Linked DNA regions of Homo sapiens. The protein of the gene in region 2 purifies or fractionates together with the protein of the main gene of each other region. This does not show direct contact. Each region holds a gene or a part of one and is shown on either strand. Other genes may lie near its edges.

What was found.
Region 1: the proteins of PALD1 (region 2) and MACIR purify together in Homo sapiens (affinity purification with mass spectrometry; one large-scale study listed by BioGRID and IntAct). This does not show direct contact.

Annotation. Positions count from the first base shown.
Region 1 is NC_000005.10:103,275,589-103,279,304, forward strand, and holds the end of MACIR (macrophage immunometabolism regulator), read left to right. Parts: intron 1-308; 5' UTR 309-331; coding exon 332-952; 3' UTR 953-3,072; downstream 3,073-3,716. UniProt on the Homo sapiens protein: Regulates the macrophage function, by enhancing the resolution of inflammation and wound repair functions mediated by M2 macrophages. The regulation of macrophage function is, due at least in part, to its ability to inhibit glycolysis.
Region 2 is NC_000010.11:70,530,573-70,534,390, reverse strand, and holds part of PALD1 (paladin), read right to left. Parts: intron 3,102-3,818; coding exon 2,937-3,101; intron 1,771-2,936; coding exon 1,610-1,770; intron 1,397-1,609; coding exon 1,321-1,396; intron 470-1,320; coding exon 318-469; intron 1-317.

The DNA.
Region 1 (3,716 bases), on a different chromosome or scaffold from region 2:
TGTGATTGAATAGAGTGCGGAATTTAGAGAAGTATTGTTGTTGTTGTTTTCTGTTTGCTTCTCCATCTGAACTTTTTGGTAGTACATCAGACTTTAATTTAACTTGCCTTTCAGTTCTTAAAGGCAGAGAGGTATTGTCATTTCATGCCCGCTCTGAAACGTTTAGTAGACATAGTTACATGTCAGTGGTACATTGACTGTCTTTCAGGCAAGTGTTACTTCATGCTCCCTGAGCCTTCTAAAAGGACCTGGCCTGGCCCAAGTCTCTGTGCATTATATTCTTCTAATCTAAGTCTGTTTACTTTTAGGATTGTGCAGACTGGTGCTTAAAATGGAAGTCGATATTAATGGAGAGTCTAGAAGTACCCTGACCACCTTGCCCTTCCCTGGGGCTGAGGCCAACTCCCCGGGAAAGGCGGAGGCAGAGAAGCCCCGCTGCTCCAGCACACCCTGCTCCCCGATGCGGAGGACCGTGTCAGGCTACCAGATCCTACACATGGACTCTAACTATTTGGTTGGCTTCACGACTGGCGAGGAACTCCTGAAGTTAGCTCAGAAGTGCACAGGAGGTGAAGAGAGCAAAGCAGAAGCCATGCCATCCTTACGCTCCAAACAGCTAGATGCAGGACTTGCCCGTTCCTCTCGTTTGTATAAAACCAGAAGTAGGTACTACCAGCCATACGAGATTCCAGCTGTCAATGGCAGGAGGCGAAGGCGGATGCCAAGCTCAGGAGACAAGTGCACTAAATCTTTACCTTATGAACCTTACAAGGCCCTCCATGGGCCTCTGCCTCTTTGTCTTCTTAAAGGTAAGAGGGCTCACTCCAAATCTCTGGACTACCTCAATCTAGATAAAATGATCAAGGAGCCAGCTGATACAGAAGTGCTACAGTACCAGCTTCAACACCTAACCCTCCGAGGGGACCGTGTGTTTGCTAGGAATAATACATGAATGACTTGGAGAGAGCTTAAACCAATTTAGGTCAGCCTACGCTTGGCTAGAAAAAACCCACTGCTGTACTCTGTACATGACTCTTCACACTATAGATGGTTATATCAGCTAAGTGTTCCTGGAACATAAAAATTGTTTGGGTCAAATTTGAATACAGGAATGAAATCACAGGTACTTGGGGGGGGGATATCATTCTAGAGCACGCAACTGCAAAGAAAACAGAATGTTGACTGTTAGTTTGTATAGCTTTTTAGCTAGGAAAAAAAGGCTTTGGTACAGTAATTTCATCTTTATGATTCTGACACTCAAATTGGGAATGTTACCTGCTTGGTTGTTGCTGACTTGATATGATTCATTAGAAATTTATATCTTCAGTACTCAAGTACTTCTTGAATCTCTGTATTTTACTATAAAATGTATGTAATGATTTGTTTTATGAAATTTAGAACTTGAACATTGCTGAATTGGACCACTTTTTATTTTTAAATATTGAGTTTAAATATTTTATAACTGGTTTTGCACTGAAAAAATTAACATTTCAGATTGACAAGAGAGTAATCTTTCTTCACTTGCCTCAATAATGTTATTGAGCAATGAATTTTTTATTTCCGCATGGAAAGTTATTGATCTCTATGGCTGTAAAATATTTCTTTATAGCGTTATTAAAGTGTGTCTTAATAAAATTAAATTTGGGATACAAAGTATTTATTTTACAATGGGTGGGCGGGGGAAACTTTTCCAGAAAGTTTCCAATATGACGTTTTCATAAGTTGAAAAAACTCTCCTTAGTGCTTATTTTCTAACTTAAAATTCACCTGGAACTTTAAATGGGAAAGGATTCTTTTAATTGTGGATTATAGGCATAATACTGTTTGCATCTGAATTTTCTGTAAGTGAATAATAGTTTAATAGAGGAACTCATGATTTGTACTATTGAATGATTAAACTAAGTATGAAGTGATACCATTCAGCATGGCATCAGGTCATTGCAGTTTTAGTTCTGTGTAACACAAGCACTCACTGAAATTCCAGTTTCTAGGATTAGTGTAGGAGCCTAACGTGCTTCTACTGTTTTAATGGGTTAATCCTGGATTACTTAACAATTTATGTCAATTGCACTGGTTTAATTTGTTGCTAAAGAAATAATGCCCTGGGTTTAGTAACAAATACAGCTCAACTATTCTTGAATATATTTTGAAAAAAAAATGTATGTAACTTACCTTTTGTAAACGTTCCATTTCTTTTTTCCCTCATTTTTGACTCTTAAAGGTGCAATTTATTACTGAATTGGGATTTCTGGCAGCACAGAACTGCTTTTTATTTTGGGGTCTGTGAGTTTCTTAGGTATTAGCAATCTTGCTTATAAAATAAGAACACCTTTTAATTAATGAGTGGGTCATTCCTGGTGCAATTGTGATTTTTCTTTAGCCAGAATGAATGGCAAACTCTATTTAGAGCAAAGTAAGTATTAGAAAACCCTAGGAACTCTTAATCAACGTTTATTACACTTTCATTAAGGCAAACTACGTGAAAGAGCCTTGGGGAAGTTGGCCCATATCTTACTAAGTTGATCAGATTTCTCGTTGGGCTGGAAATGTTTCGCTGTTGTATATTTTAAAGTAAATTGCACCTTTGTAACATATTGTATTGACGAATGATCACTAAGATTAGCTATATCTATACAGTCATTAGTTTGACAAGAAATAGAATCCTGTCAGATGCCAAAGAGTGGGATTTTTATGTTTAATGATTAAACACCATTATTTATTGACAATTTACCCTGTGGAACTGTATTATTTCTAACTATGAAATAAAGGGGTGATGTAAACACACATTGTTGTGTGGTGCTTTAAACTAGGTCCACTATCAACAGGCTACTTACTGTTCAAGAATTCCACTGAAGCACTTATTTTAAGGCCCTATTTTTCTTAAACAAAACAGTGACAACAACAATCAAACCATTTACTTTTGATGCTCATTGGCATTTTATGATAAAAGATGTATTCATGGCAATGATATGTATTCACCCTATTAGGAAACACAACTGGTTACCTATGAGACCTGTTCTGTCCGTGTGCCTACGTTCCTTAATAATAGCTAAATAAAAATTTGTAGCTTTTTTTGTTTTGTTTTGTTTTTTCCTGAAAGACAGGTGAAACTCTGTGGCAAAAATAGGGGGGTTAATAGTATAAGATATGGCATACTTACTCTTTTTTGATTAGTAAAGATATATAATTTTAAATTTGGTTTTCTAGAAAGAAAGTTTCAAAACTCTAGGCCAGTAATTTTCACAATGTGTTTGCAGAACCCCTTTATTAGTTCAGTCTTACTTTCTCTGCACCCCATGGAATTGTAGCCTATGGTAGGTAAGAACCAATTTTTTTAAAAAAAGGGTAGGCTGGATCTCTTTTAGTTGAAAAACAATCCCTTTTGACATGGTTTCTATTTTTTAACTTTTTCATTTTTTATTCAATTTAATATTCCACACTAAATGGGGCACACTTGGCCAGAATATACCTGATGATATTATCTTACTGTTCTTGCCCTTAAACATTGCAGCACTATATAACTTTAATTTTTTTCTTCTTTTGCAAAAGTACCGTTTGTTTGAAGCTCAGATGATGCATAAAGTTGCAGTAAAATTTCATTCCTTGCCTCAATCTGAGGTGAGCTTCTTTTGCTCTTCTGACTTCCATTTGGTTGCATTTTACACCTCTGGGTGCAGGGCTCCCATAGTCAGTAGTCATGGAAGAAGAGGCTCTAT
Region 2 (3,818 bases):
TCCAAAGGTCTCACACGGCCACCCGCCTGCTGTCTCCACTCATATGGCCGCTGGGGGACACCAGACTACAGGTTCCTTCTGAATCACATTGTGGGAAGCAGGGGACATTTCCCCAACTAGGGAAACTGAGGCCCAGAAAGGTCAGGTGACTTTCTCCAGGTCTCCCAGCAAGTCTCGTGGCAAACCAGGAAATGAACCCCAGATGCCAAATTTCCAGCTCTGGCTCTGGGCTCCTAGACATGTCCCCACACTGTGGGGCAGCCTGTCCCCTCCTCGGCCCCACAGCCCTTCAGGACGCTGGGCCCCGGGCCACTCACTCTGGCTGGGAGGTGGTCCCACTGCGGTGAAGCAGGATGAGGGTGCCCAGGACCATGCCCAGGTTGGTCCTGCCCACGCCCATCTGGCAGCTGAAGACGAGGGCTGGGGGAGGCCCGTGGGCATCACGGAGCTGCAGCAGGCTGGGGGTCTCCTGGGAAAGACCATGAGGATCAGGCCCCAGTGAGACCAGGAAACCCTGGGCTGAGGCCTGAGCAGGGAGAAAAGCATGACATCAGCCCACCCTGCCCCACAGTCTGCAGCAAAGTGGGCTCCAATAGGTGTCTTGGCCTCTTCTGCCAAAGCCACAGCCTGATCAGCTCCACCTGCTCCCTCCCCAGGCCTTGGAGGAGCTCAAAGAACTGGAAGTGAGAGCGACTCAGAGGGCACCAGGCCAGTATTAACACCTTCTGCAAGATGCCAGTGAAATAAGATAATGCCCTGAAGGGGGCTGGAGAGAAACTCCGCCAGGACTCAGGAAATGTCAGCTGAACAGTCTATAGGGCAAGAGTCGTTAGCTCCACTAAAGAAAGGAGGAACTGAGGTCTAGAGAGGTGAGGTGATTAGTCCGGGACCACACAGCAAGTTGGCAGCCCAGCCACGGCCAGCAGCTGGGCCAGCGGTCAGTGATGGACTCTGCCATAAGAGAATGCACAAACACACACCTACATACAGGTACACACACACAAACACATACACACACAGACACATACACACACAGAAACACATGTATCCCCACACAGAGACACACAGACAGGAACACACAGACACACAGAGAGACACATAAACATGTACACACACTCCCCACAGACACACACAAAGGCGCTGACACACACAGACATATACAGAGACAGACACCAACACACGTCCACCCTAACATGCTCACATACACAACACAGAATGAAGCCTTCCTCTGAGGAAGGCGAGAGGCTGTGCCCACCCTGAGCACCTCCATGGGGACGACTCTCAAGACTCCTCCCCCATGCGCGCCCGTGCCCCAGTTACCCGGAGAACACTGACAAAGGCGTCCAACTGGGCCTCCAGGGGACTCCCTTGCTCGGGCAGGGGCAGGCGGTGGTACCTGCCAGGTGAGGGAGAGCAGCCATCAGGCAGGCACCCACTCTGGGAATCCCCCTCACCCCCTATTCCCGGGCACTGTTTGGAAATGGGCCCCACTGTGGGAGACATGGGTGTGGGGGACTCCGCCCAACCTGCAGATGGTGAAACTGAGGCTGCAGCTGGAGAGCAGGACCTGGAGCACCCATGGCCAGGGCTGGGGGTGGCCCTGTGGTACCTGTAGGTGGGCTGCAGGAAGAGGGGCCGCTTGTACACCTCCTCCGTCACATGCAAGTCGTCCTCACCATGGATGGCCACAGCATGGGGCTCCCCCCACAGGTCCTCGGTGTTATGGTACACATGGTATGTGTTCTCGCTCAGCTGGGCAAAGTCGTGGATCTAGAGGGAGGTGTGGGGGTCAGAGGGCCATGGCCTGAACTTCAAGACCCTCCCTGAGTGTCCTGGCTGAGCTCTGGAGTGACCAGACCATGCAGAGGCCACAGGCAGGCTTCTGCCCCCCATGAGGGAACTACACAGCCAGAAGTGCTCTCTATGCCATTCCTGGGAGTTCTGAAGGAATCGGGGTGCCTACACAGGGGCAAGGCAGGAGGGCTCTGCCCAGTGGGTGCAGGAATTCACAAAGCCACCAGTGCCAGGACGGGGGAGGTGTGGTCAGCTGGGAGCTGGAGCCGAGGGGAGCAGAGCACACAGGAGGCCTGGAGGGGATGGGAGAGGCAAAGAGCTGGGCGCCGGCATGGCCTCGGTTCCTGACCTGGAAGTTTCTGGGGACACTGGGACCCCACACTCTATTCACACACCTTCATGGTATGTCAGCTGCCTCAGAGGCCTCCACAAGCCTCTGTGTTATGGAGGAGGAGGAGGACAGAGGATACTGAAACAGGCCCACAGACCCACTGAGGGAACTGACTCAGAGGCTCGTGGCTCTCAAAGCGTTGAACTGCAGCCTTGGTCCTTCTGGTCTAGCGCTCTTTTCACTCACCTAGAACCCTTTCTTTTTCTTTTTCTTTTTTTTTTTTTAGAAAGAGTTTCACTCTGTAGCCCAGGCTGGAGTGCAGTAGTGTGATCTCGGCTCACTGCAACCTCCGCCTCCCAGGTTCAAGCAATTCTCCTGCCTCAGCCTCCCGAGTAGCTAGGATTATAGGCATGCGCAAGCACGTCCAGCTAATTTTTTGTATTTTTAGTAGAGACACAGTTTCACCACGTTGGTCAGGCTGGTCTTGAACTCCTGCCCACCTCGGCCTCCCAAAGTGCTGGAATTACAGGTATAAGCCACTGCACCCGGCCCACCAGACCCCTTTCTAAATAAGGACATTGAGCATCAAGGAGACAAGCAGGGTGGGAAAGGGGCAGAGGCAAAGAGAGCTAGAATAGGAAGTCCTTCCTCTGGCTGCCCGTGAGTCAGCCTTGCAGCCAGCCACTCACCCAAGCAGGGCACAACAGTGGGGGAACACGGGCCAGTAAGAGCAGGTGAGCTGGCCCCAAAAAGAGCATCTGCAAAGCTGGGCTGTGGGCTGGGGTCTCCCGCACACCGCACTGGTCCTCACCTCTTTCCGGATGGCCAGCTCCAGGCTCTCCACCCGGACCCCGGGTCCAAGGCCCTGGAGGTTCTCATGAAGGTTCTGCTTGTCTCGAGGTGTGTAGGACACAAAGTCCTCATCTGCACGCAGGAAAAGCACAGGTTCCTCCCGCACACAGAAGATGACACACTCCTGCCAGGAGCCCGAGGGGGAAGGAAGCCATCATCATGATCCCGCACAGACACCTGCACCACTGCCCCACCTCAGGGCCTCTGCCCAAGCTGTTCCTTCCTCCTGCACCCCACACCATCCCTGCAACCTGAATCCTACCCAAGAAACAAAGCTCAGTCCAAATGCTACCTCCCTGTGACCCTCCCAGTCAGCAGTGACCCCTGCCTCCTGTCAGGGTCAAGAGTCCTTCATATGAATCTCTTGGCGTTAATTCCTGCTTTGTACTATCAATGAATGCATCTTTTCCCCCTTAATGGACCACAGGTTCCTCGTAGGCAAAATCATGTCCTGGTCATTTTCATGTACCCATAATTCCTAGCATGGTGTCCTAGCATGGTGTCCTGGATAAATCAGGTGTTTGATGAACATCAGCTGAAGAAATGAATGCCCCATGACCACGCAATCATTCATTCACTGAGCACCATACAGGCAGAGGGAAATGTGTGGGCAGATGGTCCCCTTGAGGAACTTATCATCAAGATGGGAAGATGGGACCTGCACACAGCCCACACCCCCACCCCATTCTGTCTCACTCAAAGCCTTTCCACCTTAACTCCGGGGTCAATTCAGATGCAGCTGCACTCAAGAAGCCTACAATCGCAGCAGACCCTCAGCCTGTGTCCTAGGGACACGCAAAACCCTGCCTCAACATCCGACAGGTAAGAACAGTCCTTGAAA